Linked DNA regions of Homo sapiens: region 2 is linked to region 1. The links come from fine-mapping of genetic effects on gene expression. Tissue or cell type: whole blood. Region 1 holds a variant in brackets; the other region holds the start of a gene. All regions are shown on one strand. Distances are from middle to middle.

Evidence for each region. PIP is the estimated chance that this variant, and not a neighbour inherited with it, causes the effect.
Region 2: KCNE5 starts here. The variant in region 1 is fine-mapped to the expression of KCNE5 in whole blood (TOPMed, PIP 0.97).

What each region holds. Positions count from the first base shown.
Region 1 is chrX:109,020,471-109,028,579 of GRCh38, reverse strand. No RefSeq gene overlaps it. Among named protein-coding and RNA genes, the nearest start is that of IRS4, 290 kb to the right of the region's middle. RefSeq lists an enhancer at 2,429-2,996. The variant T/A (reference allele first, on the strand shown) is at 3,597.
Region 2 is chrX:109,620,478-109,628,586 of GRCh38, reverse strand. It overlaps KCNE5 (potassium voltage-gated channel subfamily E regulatory subunit 5), which reads left to right and starts at 3,415. Exons shown (of 1, transcript NM_012282.4): 1 at 3,415-4,887. The coding sequence starts at 3,567. The coding sequence ends at 3,995.

The sequences.
Region 1 (8,109 bases):
CACATCCTTGTCAATCTTGTTATTTTCTGTTGTTTTTATTTTAGTCATTATTGTAGGTGTGAAGTGGTATCTTGTGGTGATTTTGGTTTACATTTCCTTAATGATTAAAGATATTGAGCACCTTTTCATGTGCTTGTTGGCCATTTGCGTATCTTCTTTGGAGAAACATCTATTCAAACCCTTTGCCTATTTTTTAATTGGGTCATTTATCTTTTTGCTATTGAGTTATGAGAGTTCTTTTCATATTCTAAATATTATACTTTTATCAGATATATGATTTACAAATACTTTATCTAATTTTGCATGTTGTTTTCACTTTCCTGATAGTGTCCTTTGATTCACAAATATTTTTAATTTAAATAAAGTCCAATTTGTCTATTTTTTATTTTGCTTATACTTTAAAAATGTATGGGTACAAAGTAGCTGTATATAATTATGGAGTACATGAGATATTTTGATACAAGCATTCAATATGTAATCATCACATTGTGGTAAATGGGGTATCAATCACTGCAAGAATTTATCCTTTCTTTGTGTTACAAACATTCTAATTGTACTCTTTTAGTTATTTTAAAATGTACAACAAATTGTTAATTATAGTCATCTGTTGTGCTATCAAATATTAGATTTTATTAATTCCCTCTAAGTATATTTTTGTACCCATTAACAGTCCCCACTTGCCTCCCTACTATCCTTCTTAGCCTTTGGTAACCATCATTCTACTCTCTATCTCCATGAGTTCAATTGTTTTAATTTTTAGCTTTCCAAAATGGGTGAGAACATGCTAAGTTTGTCTTTCTGTGCCTCACTTATTTCTGTCAACATAATTTCCTTTAGTTCTGTGCATCCTATTACAAATGGCAGGATCTCATTCTTTTTTATGGCTTAATAGTACTCCATTGTATATATGTACCATATTTTCTTTATTCTTTTGTCTGTTGATGGATACTTAGGCTGATTCCAAATCTTGGCTATTGTGAATAGTGCTGGAATAAACACGGGGATACACATGTCTTTGATACATTGATTTTCTTTCTTTTGGGTATATACCTAACAGTGGTATTGCTGAATCATATGATCATTCTAATTTTAGTTTTTTGAAAAACCTTCATACTGTTCTCCCCAGTGGTTGTACTGATTTATGTACCCACAATAGTATATGAGGTTTTCCCTTTCTCCACATCTTTGCCAGCATTTGTTATTGCCTGTCTTTTGGAAATAAGCCATTTTAACTGGGGTGAGATGATATCTCATTGTAGTTTTGATTTGCATTTGTCTGATGATCAATGATGTTGAGCAACTTTTTGTATACCTGTTTGCCATTTGGACATCTTCTTTTGAAAAATATTTGCCTATTTTTAAATTGTATTATTAGATTTTTTTCTCCCATTTGGGAGAAAATGATCATAAACTATTGATTTGACAAGGGATTAATAATCAGAATATATAAGGAGCTAAAACTTATATATTCAAATTGTCTCTTCATTTTGTTGATTTTTTTCTTTTGTTGTGCAGAAGCTTTTTAATGTGATGTGATGCCATTTGTACATTTTTTTTCTTTTGTTGCCTATGCTTGTAGGGCATTACTCAATAAATCTTTGCCCAGACTAATGTCCTGGACAGTTCCCCCAAGGATTTCTTCTCGTAGTTTCATGTCTTAGATTTAAGTCTTAATCAATTTTGACTTTGTTTTTCTATATGATGAGAGATAAGAATCAAGCTTCATTCTTCTTCATAGGAATATCCAGTGTTCACAGCACCATTTGTTGAAGAAACTGTCTTTTCCTCAATGTATGTTCTTGGCACCTTTGTAAAAAATGAGTTCACTACAGATGTATGGATTTATTTCTGGATTCTCTATTTGTTGTTTGTACTTTCGATGTTATATCTACAAAACCATTGCCAATCATTTAAAGATTTACCCCTATGTTTTTTCCTAAGAATTGTATATTTTTTGCTCTTCCATTTAGATCTTTAGTATATTCTCAGTTCTTTTCTATATGTTATGAGATAAAGGTACAACTTTTTTCTTTTGCATGTGGGTATCCAGTTGTCCCAGAGAGTATATTTCTTTTAACTCCTCCAAATAGAGAATAATAATAATTATTATGATAAACGGTCAAGAGCAAGAACAAGCTACTCACAGAAGAAGTACGATTCTCCATACATGTACAAAAAGATGTTTAATGTCACTAATAATCAGGAAGATTCAAATAAGAATGATAATTAATAATCATTTTAAAATGTGATATAATTCACATACCATATAATTCACCCACTTAAAATGTACAATATGATGGCTGTTAGTATATTCTCAGAGTTGTGTAACTATTGTTAAAATCAATTTTAGAATATTTTTTCACCCCAAAAAGAAACACTGCATGATTTATTCATAAGCTCTATAATTTCCAGTACACACCCCCAGCTCTAGACAAACTAATCCACTTTCTGTCTCTGGTGATTTGCTTATTCTACATTTTACATAAATGTTTATTTTTCAGCATATTCTGCAATGGTAAACAAATGGAAGCAACATAAATGTCCATCAGTGGAAGGATGTATAAACAAATATAATCTTATCATATGATGGAATATGTATAAGGCCTTAATTATGCATTTCATTAAATGTACCTTGCTTTTAGCTGCCTGCTGGGCATTTAACTGTTTGCTCACTGGAGAACCTGTTTGCATGACACAATCTCCATTGCACCTGCTGAGCCAGGAACTGCAGTGGCTTCAATTCCCAGGCCTCATCCAGCTGGATCTATGGAGTCTCTGGCTTCTGCCACCAGTTTCAGATTCAGATAAATTGTAACACAATGAGGTATGGGACCTGGCATCCCCAGTAGCTGCTGGATAGTCCAGATGACAAAACTTGGAAACCTTTGTACAGGAAACAAAGGGATTAATACCACCAAGGACAAACATATATCAATAAAAAATAAGATGTTGAAAAAGGCTAGCAAACAATCTTTTCTTCTTTCCTACTCTCTTCTTCTCTCTTTTGCTTTCCTTTTATTTCTTGCTCTTGCTGCCTTGGGATATCACTTCCTAATAAAGCCTTAGCACAAAACCTTTACTCATAAGAAACCTTATTTTGAAATGAAAGTCAAGATGGCCAAATAGGAACAGCTCTGGTCTGCAGCTCCCACCGAGACTGATGCAGAAGATGGGTGATTTCTGCATTTCCATCTGAGGTACCTGGTTCATCTCATTGGGACTGGTTGGACAGTGGGTGCAGCCCATGGAGGTTGAGCCGAAGCAGGGTAAGGCATCGCCTCACCTGGGAAATGCAAGGGGTCAGGGGATTACCCTTTCCTAGCCAAGGGAAGCTGTGACGGACTGTACCTAGAGAATCAGTACACTCCTGACCAAATACTGCACTTTTCCCACAGTCTTAGCAACTGGCAGACCAGAACGTACCCTCCCGTGCCTGGCTCAGTGGGTCCCATGCCCACAAAGCCTTGCTCACTGCTAGCGCAGCAGTCTGAGATTGACCTGCAACTCTGCAGCTTGACTGGGGGAGGAACACCCACCATTGCTGAGGCTTGAGTAGCTCACAGTGTCAACAAAGAGGCCAGGAAGCATGAATTGGA[T/A]GGAGCCCATTGCAGCTCAGCAAGGCCTACTGCCTCTATAGATTCCATCTCTAGGGTCAGGGCATAGTAGAACAAAAGGTAGCAAATAGCTTCTGCAGACTTAAATGTCCCTGTCTCACAGCTTTGAGGAGAGCACTGGTTCTCTTAGTGTGGCATATGAGCTCCGAGAATGGACAGACTGCCTGCTCAAGAGGGTCCCTGACCTCCATGTGGCCTGACTGGGAAACACCTCCAGTAGGGGCTGACAGACATCTCAAACAGGCAGGTGCCCCTCTGGGATTAAGCTGACAGAGGAAGGATCAGGCAGCAATATTTGCTGTTCTGCAACCTCCACAAGTGATAGCCCGGCAAACAGGGTCTGGAGTGGACCTCCAGCAAACTCCAACAGACCTGCAGCTGAAAGGTCTGACTCTTAGAAGGAAAAGTAACAAACAGAAAGGAATAGCATCAACATCAACAAAAAGGACATCCACACCAAAACCCCATCTGTAGGCCATCAACATCAAAGACCAAAGGTAGATAAAACTACAAAGATGGGGAGAAACAAGAGCAGAAAAGCTGGAAATTCCAAAAAACAGAGCACCTCTTCTCCTCCAAAGGATTGCAGCTCCTCACCAGTAAGGGAACAAAACTGGACAGAGAACGAGTTTGATGAGTTGACAGAAGTAGGCTTCAGAAGGTCGGTAATAACAAACTTCTCCAAGCTAAAGGAGCATGTTCTAACCCATTGCAAGCAAGCTAAAAACCTTGAAAAAAGGTTAGATGAATGGCTAACTAGAATAAACAGTGTAGAGAAGACCTTAAATGACCTGATGGAGCTGAAAACCACGGCATGAGAACTTCATGATGCATGCACAAGCTTCAATAGCTGATTCGATCAAGTGGAAGAAAGGATATCGGTGATTGAAAATAAAATTAATGAAATAAAGTGAGAAGACAGGAGTAGAGAAAAAAGAGTGAAAAGTAATGAACAAAGCCTCCAAAAGATATGGGACTATGGGAAAAGACCAAATATCCATTTGATTTGTGTATCTGAAAGTGATGGGGAGAATGGAACCAAGTTAGAAAACACTTCTCAGGATATTATCCAGGAGAACTTCCCTAACCTAGCAAGGGAGGCCAACATTCAAATTCAGGAAATACAGAGAACACCACAAAGATACTCCTCAAGAAGAGCAACCTCAAGACACATAATTGTCAGATTCAACAAGGTTGAAATGAAGGAAAAATGTTAAGGGCACCCAGAGAGAAAGGTTGGGTTACCCACAAAGGGAAGCCCATCAGACTAACAGCGGATCTCTTGGCAGAAACCCTACAAGCCAGAAGAGAGTGGAGGCTGATATTCAACATTTTTCAAGAGAAGAATTTTCATCCCAGAATCTCATATCCAGCCAAACAAAGCTTTATAAGTGAAGGAGAAATAAAATCCTTTACAGACAAGCAAATGCTGAGAGATTTTGCCACCACCAGGCCTGCATTACCGGAGCTCCTGACGGAAGCACTAAACATGGAAAGGAACAAACAACTGGTACCAGCCACTGCAAAAACATGCCAAGTGGTAACGACCATCGATGCTATGAAGAAACTGCATCAACTAATGCGCAAAATAACCAGCTAAAATCAAAATGACAGGATCAAATTCAAACACAACAATATTAACCTTAAATGGAAATGGACTAAATGCCCCCAATTAAAAGACACAGACTGGCAAATAAGATAAAGAGTCAAGACCCACAGGTGTTCTGTATTCAGGAGACCCATCTCACATGCAAAGACATACATAGGCTCAAAATAAAGAGATGGCAGAATATTTACCAAGGAAATGGAAAGCAAAAAAAAGAGGGAGGGGGTGTTGCAATCCTAGTCTCTGATAAAACAGACTTTAAACCAGCAAAGATCAAAAGAGACAAAGAAGGCCTCTACATAATGGTAAAGGGATCAATTCAACAAGAAGAGCTAACTATCCTAAATATATACGCACCTAATTCAGGAGAACCCAGATTCATAAAACAAGTTCTTAGAGACCGACAAAGATACTTAGACTCCCACACAATAATAATGGGAGACTTTAACACCACAACGTCAATATTAGACAGATCAATGAGACCGAAAATTAACAACAATATCCAGGACTTGAACTCAGCTGTGGACCAAGCAGAACTAATAGACATCTACAGAACTCTCCACCCCAAATCAACAGAATATAAATTCTTCTCAGCACCACATCGAACTTATTCTAAAATTGACCACATGATTAGTAGTAAAACACTCCTCAGCAAATGTAAAAGAACAGAAATCACAACAAACTCTCTCTCAGACCACAGTGCAATCAAATTAGAACTCGGGATGAGGAAACTCACTCAAAACTGCACAAGTACATGAAAACTGAACAACGTGCTCCTGAATGACTACTGGGTAAATAACGAAATAAAGGCAGAAATAAAGACGTTCCTTGAAACCAATGAGAAGAAAGACAGAAAGTACCAGAATCTCTGGGACACATTTAAAGCAATGTGTAGAGGGAAATGTATAGCACTAAATGCCCACAAGAGAAAGCAGAAAATATCTAAAATCGACACCCTAACATCACAATTAAAAGAACTAGAGAAGCAAGAGCAAACAAATTCAAAAACTAGCAGAAGGCAAGAAATAACTAAGATCAGAGCAGAACTCAAGGAGATAGAGACACGAAAAAACTTTCAAAATGATCAGTGAATCCAGGACCTGGTTTTTTGAGAAGATCAACGAAATAGACCACTAGCAAGACTAATAAAGAAGAAAAGAGAGAAGAATCAAATAAACACAATAAAAAATGATAAAGGGGATATCACCACCGATCCCACAGAAATACAAACTACCATCAGAGAATACTATAAACACCTCTATGCAAATAAACTAGAAAATCTAGAAGAAATGGATAAATTCCTGGACACATACACCCTCCCAAGACTAAACCAGGAAGAAGTTGAATCTCAGAATAGACCAATAACACGATCTGAAGTTAAGGCAAAAATTGATAGCCTACCAACAAAAAAAGTCCAGGACCAGAGGAATTCACAGCCAAATTCTACCAGAGGTACAAAGAGGAGCTGGTACCATTCCTTCTGAAACTATTTCAATAAATAGAAAAAGAGAGACTCCTCCCTAATTCATTTTATGAGGCTAGCATCATCCTGATACCAGAGCCTGGTAGAGACACAACAAAAAGAGAATTTTAGGCCAATATCCGTGATGAACATCGATGCGAAAGTCCTCGATAAAATACTGGCAAATCGAATCCAGCAGCACATCAAAAAGCTTATCCACCATGATCAAGTCAGTTTCATCCCTGGGATGCAAGACTGGTTCAACCTATGCAAACCAATAAACATAATCCATCATATAAACAGAACCAAAGATAAAAACCACATGATTATATCAATAGATGCAGAAAAGGCCTTCAAAAAAATTCAACAGCACTTCATGCTAAAAATTCTCAATAAACTAGGTGTTCATGGAGCATATATCAAAATAATAAGAGCTATTTATGACAAACCCACAGCCAATATCATACTGAATGGGCAAAACCTGGAAGCATTCCCTTTGAAAACCAGCACAAGACAAGGATGCCCTCTCTCACCACTCCTATTCAACATAGTGTTGGAAGTTCTGGCCAGGGCAATCAGGCAAGAGGAAGAAATAACGGGTATTCAATTAGGAAAAGAGTAAGTCAAGTTGTTTCTGTTTTCAGTTGAAATGATTGTATATTTAGAAAACCCCATCATCTCAGCCCAAAGTCTCCTTAAGCTGATAAGCAACTTCAGCAAACTCTCAGCATACAAAATCAATGTGCAAAAATCACAAGCATTCCTATACACCAATAAGGGACAGAGAGCCAAATCATGAGTGAACTCCCATTCACAATTGCTTCAAAGAGAATAAAATACCTAGGAATCCAACTTAAAAGGGATGTCAAGGACCTCTTCAAGGAGAACTACAAACCACTGCTCAATGAAATAAAACAGGACACAAACAAATGGAAGAACATTCCATGCTCATGGATAGGAAGACTCAATATCACAAAAATGCCCATACTGCCCAAGGTAATTTATACATTCAATGTTATCCCCATCAAGCTGCCACTGACCTTTTTCACAGAATTGGAAAAAACTCCTTTAAAGTTCCCTTGGAACCAAAAAAGAGCCCACATAGCCAAGACAATCCTAGGCAAAAAGAACAAAGCTGTATGCATCAAGCTACCTGACCTCAAACTATACTATAAGGCTACAGTAACCAAAACAGCATGGTACTGGTACCAAAACAGAGATTGACCAATGGAACAGAACAGAGGCCTCAGAAATAACACCACACATCTACAACCATCTGATCTTTGACAAACCTGACAAAAACAAGTAATGGGGAAAGGATTTCCTATTTAATAAATGGTGCTGGGAAAACTGGCTAGCCATATGTAGAAAGCTGAAACTGGATCCCTTCCTTACACCTTATACAAAAATTAACTCAAGATGGATTA
Region 2 (8,109 bases), 600 kb before region 1:
AAAAGATGTTCTTTAAAAAATAAAATTTGTAAGTGATCTACTCTAAAAAAAACAAAAACAACAACAAAAAATAACGCTATGGAGAAATAGTAAATGACATGGAAAAATTTACAGTATGTTTTTAAGGGAAAAAGGCCATGAAACATGAGAGAGAGAGAGAGAGAGAGATTTGAGAGAGAGAGTCATGAGTATGCACCATTGATAATTTTTCGTTCTTTTCTCTTGTCGCTTTTTTGTGTTTTCCAAGATTTCCAAAATTTTCCTTGTTGCTTTTTTGTGTTTTCCAAGATTTCTGCATTGAATGCTGCAAAGTAAAGCTCAGAAGGGTGCATTGTGAAGAATCTGAAAGCACAAACAGGGGCATAGAGCAAGGCTTCTTTCAGTCAACGAATTTTGAGGAAGGCAAAATGCACAGAGTATTGCAGAGGAACTCCAGGAAGATGCTGTTTTTCAAATTCAAAGGGGAGAAGATGGTGTCTATTGGTGGTGAGAACTTAAGTTCCACCACAGAAGACTAAACTCTGTTAAAGAATCAATGAGTAACAACTCCTGGGTTTCTGAACATAGGGCTGAATTGATAGAAGTGGTGTTGGAGAATTATTCTAACCATAACATGATAGATTCAGCTGTAAGCCAGGAGATTCTCTGTTTGCATATTTGACCTGAGGTAATGAGAACATGGATTAAGCTTGTGGCAATAAAACCAGAAAGGAAGGAGCAGAGGGATCTGAGACATGCTACCAAGAATCAGAGCTAGAGATTCAAATTTGGCTAAATATATGCCAAGTGGTAGGTGAAACCATGTAAGAGACACTCTTCAAGGAAATGGGTGTTGAGAGAGAATAGCTGAGGACTGAGTCTTTGGGGATTCCAACAGTTAATGGGAGGAGGAAAGAAGGGGAGCCAGCAAAGGAGGCAGAGAATGGTGGGTCAGAGAGATAAGAAGAGAAATTTGAGAATGCAATGCCACAAGAGCCAAGGGTAGGACAGTTACAGGAAGGAGTGGGTGGTTGATGGTTTCAAATTCATCCTCGAGGTCAAAGATGCAAAGGGAGCAGAGACCCCTGAATTTGACCCGGAGGTCACTGGTGAACTGACTTATAGAAAGTAGTTTTGGCAGAAAGCACTGGACTCTAGAAGGTTCAAGAGGAGGGAGAGGTGGGAAAATGGAGGTAGCTCATGAATACCACCCATTTGACACAAGTAATGTGTGAGGACTGAGAAGAAGAAGGTCAAACTTTATAATTCCAGTCCTGCTACTTAACCAGTCTGAACCTCAGTTTCCTCTTTGGAAAATGAGAATCCTATTAGCTCATAAGGCTGTTGAAATTAGAAAACAAGTTTAAATGATTATTTGTATGTTACAGTAAAGGGGTTTCTTCCTCCTTTCCTCTCAAAAAAAAAAAAAAAAACCCTAGCTATTTCTAGGTATATGTTAACACAGCAGTCCTCAACCTTTTTGGCACCAGAGACTGGTTTTGTGGAAGACAATTTTTTTCATGGACACTGGGGAGGGGTGGATAGTTTCAGGATGAAACTGTTTCACTTCAGATCATCAGGCATTAGATTCTCATAAAGAGCATGCAATTGTAGATCCATGGCATGCGCAGTTCACAATACGGTTTGAGCTCTTCTGAGACTCTAATGCCACTGCTGATCTGACAGGAGGTGTAGCTCAGGCGATAATGCTCACTTGCCCTCTGCTCACCTCTTTCTGTGCGGCTGGTTCCTAACAGGCCAAGGTCCAGCAGCCTGGGAGGTTGGGGACTCCTGTTTTAACAGATAAGAGAAGTCTTTTTAGCTCAACAGTCATATCACTAGGTTAGCAGTGCTTTGAAAATTCTCTGGCTGTGTCCTCTGGCATTCATCCTGCCAAGTTGCTTTAACAATTCTTTCCTGAGGCCCTCTGAGGTGAGAATATTGAGGCAAGGTGATTAGAAGGGAGCCAGTGTCAGGGTCATGTGGAATGTCTCTGAGGCCTGTTTAGAGGCTGTGAAGCAAGGCTCTGTTTGAGACCCTGGATACAGTTTGGTGCCAACCTCACCTGAACACACAGAAGGCTACAGCCCCTGGGTGGATGGTGGGCTGAAGAACGGTTGGGGAAGAGGCATCGGAAAACCTTCCTTTTTTAACCCATGGCACCTATAGATTGAATGGTCCCTGGACTGAACGGTCTTGAACAGGCAGCATTATTTTCAAGGTGTGCCTAAGGTCATACACTTTTCTTGCTTTCTGCTCTCATTTGGCAACTATGGACAACCAGACCTAGCCAGCACTACCTCATTTTTTCTACCCCACCATCTACAAACCAACCCTTTTCCTTTGTGAAGCTCAGTCTGTTTCCAATTTAACATATCTGGCCTGATCTTTGTCTTGGTGCCTTGTTTTCCCCTAAAAAAAGACAGCCTTTGAGAAAAAAATGGCTGCCCTAAAAGCCATTAGGGCCTAGACCTGTTACCAAGTCTAGAGAGGCACACAGCTGTTTGCTGGCCTAACTGGGAGTAGGGTGAGCATATTCTCTAGAACTGGCACTTTTCAGATCCCGAGATATCCACAGAGTGTAGTCAAAGGGCCTTTTAAAATGTGCATGCTACTCTTATTGGAAGAACTTGGTTTCACTTCTGGGAAGATGGCTTACTTACCCATGGGAAACAGGCTCCCATTATGAATAGTACATTCATGTGCTAAGATGTGTTGACTTTTCAAAAAGTGTCATAGGACATCAGAGCAGGGGTGCTTCCAAGAAGGTGTAATATCACTTATATCACCAGAAACCATTTTGGATAACCAGGGAGTTCTACTCTGCCTTGGCCTTCTAGCAGGTGCCTGAGCACTCAGTCACCAAATTCAGCCTGAGCATCTTCTGAATAAGATGCTCTCCTCCGACAAGGTGGGAGGGGGGTGAAAAGGGGGGCGGGGGGAAAAGGAAAGGAATGAGGACTAGAAAGATAGGCCTGGGTCCCTGTATATGGGAGTAACTTCCATAAAATGTGGACAAGGGGTCTCTGCTGCGGAAAGGCGTCTGCCCTCTCCCTTGAGCGCCCCAAGGCAGAGCTGCCTTAGGGGGCCAAATGCTGTATCTGGGCCAAAGCCTGGCCTGCAGGGCAGGTGGCCAGAACTTGGAAGGAATTCTCTTCCGCAGCCCAGGGTCCAGGCTTGGCCCCAGCAAGCTGCCCTGCCAGCGTCTGCTGCCTGGGGCCTCGCGCATTCCGAGCCCCCGCCCCCTCCGCCCGTCTCCCAGCCTCGCCCCCACTCTTGTCCCCTTCTCCTCCCCCCACCAGCTGTCCCCTTTCCCTGGAGCAGCGAGACAGCCAGAGCCTGGGAAGAGGCGGCCGCGGGCCGGAGGGGGCGTGGTGGGGAAGGGGAGGAGGGGCGGGAGTGAGGGAATAAGGAGGCCCCGCCGTCGGCGCCCCCAGCCACTGCGCGCTCGCCGGAGAGCTGGGTGCTACCGCTGTTTCCGCTGCTGAGCCCTGCCCGCCGGCCGGCCCGCTCGCTAGCTCGCTTCCCCTCGCCCAGGGGGAAAGGTCAGCAGCGTCCTGGAGCCGCCGTGTCACTCCCCGAAAGCCATGAACTGCAGCGAGAGCCAGCGGCTGCGAACCCTTCTGAGCCGCCTGTTGCTCGAGCTGCACCACCGGGGTAATGCCAGCGGCTTGGGCGCTGGCCCTCGTCCCAGCATGGGCATGGGGGTCGTGCCTGACCCTTTCGTGGGCCGCGAGGTGACCAGCGCCAAGGGCGACGACGCCTATCTCTACATCCTGCTCATCATGATCTTCTACGCCTGCTTGGCCGGAGGCCTCATCCTGGCCTACACCCGCTCCCGTAAGCTCGTCGAGGCCAAGGACGAGCCGTCCCAGGCTTGCGCCGAGCACGAATGGGCCCCGGGAGGCGCCCTGACCGCCGACGCCGAGGCTGCCGCGGGCTCCCAGGCCGAGGGCCGCCGCCAGCTTGCCTCCGAGGGGCTGCCTGCCCTCGCCCAGGGCGCTGAGCGGGTCTAAAACCACAGCCCCAGATTGCTGGTTCGCGCCCTCCTCATCTCGCTCATCCCTGGGCGCGCCTCCCACCTTCCACCCCCAACTCCCTTCCAGGGTTCGCCTCATCTGAGGCCCAGATAATGGTGAGAGGCCAGGAGACCTTGTCTGGAAGGCCCTGGAAGGAGAAGCACCACCTTACCCATTCGGGCCAGTTTCTCCCTCTTCACCCCTGCGCCTCCACCCCTACCCCGCACATCCAACTGCACTAAACTGCCTCTGCTCTCTTGTCTTCAGACAGCCCTGACAGCACGCTCCAGCCCTCTGGGAACTGAATCCAACACGTCCAACACTTGGCACTGAACTGAAGCAATGCATTCTATCAGAACTCTGGGCCGTCTAACTGGCAGCTGCTCCAGGGGCTGCCAGGGACTGCTCACTCTGCAGAGCCAACGGGCTTGCCAGGCCGACTGCAGCAGCTCCAGCTTCCAGTTGCCTTAGGGACAGAGACAAAGGAAATGAAGAGACCTCAGACATCTTTTCCCTCCCTCTCTCTTTCAGCAGGGAGCTAGCAGGACACTAGGACCAGTCTGTGGGATAGAATGAACTTAATGGGGGACGGAAGGGGGAGGAGTGCTCAACGGGGAGGGAAATGATCTATGACTCCAACCGTATGATTTTCTTGCCTCCCCAGTTTTCATCCCAGTGGTAACGCCTGATTTTTGGTAGCTATGCCATCTTCTGCTGAGGATTACCATTACTGGGTGTATCACCCCAGTACTTCCAAATGCCTCTCCTCTATTGATTCAGTTGTTATTGCAGTGTCTGCTTCATCCGTGGAACTTGAGGCTCAGATGCCCCCTGCTCTGTAACCCTGGGGAATGTCAGAGGCAGGTAATAAAGGTTGTTTAAACAATAACGCAAGACTCTTCTCTCAGAGATTCCAGCCTTAAGACCCAGTACCATATGGAGAAGGAATCCTTTTTCTTTTGCTTTTGGAAATGATGTTTGGATTTGGGGGTTGGGTGGTTGTGATATTTATATCTATGTAACCAGTTCCAATTTGATATGTGTGATTATGGGTGAAGAAAATGTTTATATGGCTAAATGGGTTGTTTTTTCAAGTGTTTCAAAAGTTATACCTACTTTATTACTTATCCCTCCTTTTTTCTTATTTCTGAAGCACTTTCAAAGATCACAATGCAGTCTTTCAGGATGCACTTTAAAAAACCTTTAAGGCCCATCCCTTTTAGCTATTATCAAACCTAATTTTTAGAAGCCACCTTAATAATTGTTTTTATTTTACTTTTTTTGAGACAGAGTCTCACTGTGTCACCCAGGCTGGAGTACAGTGGCACAATCAAGGCTTACTGAAGCCTCTGCCTCCTGGGTTCAAGCGATTCTCCTGCCTCAGCCTCCCAAGTAGCCTCCTGAGTAGCTGGGATTACAGATGTGCCCCATCATGCCCAGTTAATTTTTGTATTTTTAGTAGAGACGGGGGGTTTCACCATGTTGGCCAGGAGGTTCTCAAACTCCTGACCTCAAGTGATCCGCCTGTCTCGGCCTCCCAAAGTGCTGGGATTACAGGTGTGAGCCACTGCACCTAGCCAATAACTTTTTTGAAGTGGCTTATTAAAAGACAAGGAAGCCACCAAATAGTGTAAATCTGAAGTCAAAGAGAAAATTCTTGAACTGAGCAATCTTAACCAATGATGGGTAAAGTTAGAGGTGTGTGTTGTATTGATTTATTCTCCTTGTCTCAAGAAGGTTGTCAGAAACTTCCCTGCTTACAGCTGAAATGCTTATATCTGATGATGGCTGTTTGGGCTTCATCAACCACACATAAAATCACCTCTTAGAAGTAAGCCAATTTGCTTAAATATAGCTGGGTTCTCTGATAATGATAGCAGGACAAATATATTACCAGTCACTTAAATGCATTGATAACACACAAACCTCATTCAAGGCATTGGGTCTTACCTTCCAGCCCATCTAGCATTTTATTGGAACTGTTAATAAGTTAAGTGAACTTACTTTTATTTCCAGGATTCACTCATTGAAGCTATACTGGCCTTGCCCCATTGGCTCTTCTCCAGTCCTCGTTCCAGCCATAAGGTCACCCCTGAAGGTGAGGGCCAGGGATTGGGCAGCAGTCCAAGACGATGACAGAAAGAGAAGGGAAGCTGTGTGAGCCATTTCAGCCAGGCAGGGAGGCCTGGGGAGGATGTGGAGGAAGGGCACAATATACAGCAATGCTGAGGACATGTGACGGGGCGGTCTTCAGTCCTGTATTCTAAGTAAAACAATGTCACTCATTTATCTGGCATAATGGGGACTCAAGGTTATTATTATTAATTTTTTAAATTGAGACGGAGTCTTGCTCTGTCACCCAGGCTGGAGTGCAGTGTCGTGATCTTGGCTCACTGCAACCTCTGCCTCCCAGGTTCAAGCGATCCTCTTGCCTCAGCCTCCCGAGTAGCAGGGCTAAAGCCTGCGCCACCACGCTGGCTAATTTTTTTTTTTTTTTTTTTTTAGTAGAGACGGGGATTCATCATGTTGGCCAGGCTGGTCTCAAACTCCTGACCTCAAGTGATCTGCGCACCTTGGCCTCCCAAAATGTTGGGATTACAGGCGTGAGCCACCACGCCCGGCCTCAAGGTTATTTTGATAATGAAGCATAATCACTGCTTCAGGTGTTGAAATTTTGTAAACACATTTGTACCATTTTCCCATAGACATTTAAAAGAATATATTGCCAAAAATAAAAGAAGCTGGGAGCAGTTAGGACAGTGCTCATAATACACATTAATGTGCCAGCTGTGGAAAACAAATCCCATGGAAAATGTTCCTGCTTTTAAAAACATTTTAACCTTTTTATGATGACTTAGGGTACCCATGAAGAACATGTAGCGAGAGTAGCTATAGAACCCTCCTGGTCAGAAAAGTGAGGTGGGCTGGGAAGAGTGATTTAATTTACTTTCTAGTGGCTTTTTTCAAATACTCTCAGACTTTCAACTGTCTCCCAGATAATGAAGTTTTTCAGAAGTCTGGACACTCAACTTTTACCAGACAGTGGAGGTGTTAACAGCATTGAAGTGATCATATTGTGGTCAGCAAAACATAGGGAGAAGAAAGAAAAACTAGGTGCTTGGCCAACCCCCAGTTTTGATAATGTATCCCTGAATAGCAATAGCTGACTATACAAGTTGGGAAAATGTTAGCTTTGTCCTTAATGTGATTTTAAAGATGTTAAACATTCTAATAGAATGATTCTTTTTTTCACTCCACCAAGCAGTCTATTTCTCCTCTCTGCATAACCAGATCCTGTTTCAACTCAGGTTCAGATCTTCACTCCAAAATAATAAAGAAGCAAAAGACCTTTGCTTCCTGACTTGTAACTTGAGGCTTTCTGCAGAGGAACTAGGGGATGTTTTGAGTTTCAATGTCTGGAATTACTTATCGACAGTGCGAAAAGAAATGAAAGCTTTTCTTCTATTACAGACACAATTCTGTGTGTCAATTTTACTTTTCTAGAAGGATATAAGTGGGGTCTTTTGTTTGTTTGTAGTTACCATCTTCTCTTTTTCAATTTGTCATTGCTTTTATAAACCCAAGGTCTGCACATAACTTGTATCATCAGCAACAAAAAAAGGGGTCTGGGCTGCTTTCCAAACAATCTTGCCTGCCAGCTAAAGCGAATATACCATGATGTGGAGAGAGCATAGGACCAGAAATCAGGAGAACTTGGGTCCAGCTCAGGCTTTGCCAATTAACCAGCTTTGTTTCTCAGAATGAGCTGCTTAACCTCTCAGGGCCCCAGTCTCTACAGCTGTGGGGATTTGAGGATCAAGTGAGATAATATATGAGAAAAGGCTAGGAGAAGTGTAGAAACTATAGAAGGTATTAAGTTTATACTTTCCTTTTCTTTCTTTGGAGGAGTGCTCTTGGCACTTGGGTGGGAGTAGTGGGAGGAAGAGAAAATTTTCCACTATGTAGTTTCTACTGTTAATGCTCAAAAAAGAGGATTGCTGATACTTAGCCACTGGCTCCCAGATTTTCAAGCTTATCTACCCCATTCTCAGGATCTTGGCTGACTAGGAAACTGCATAACTGTCTCACCATTCTACTCTGCTCTCGTTTA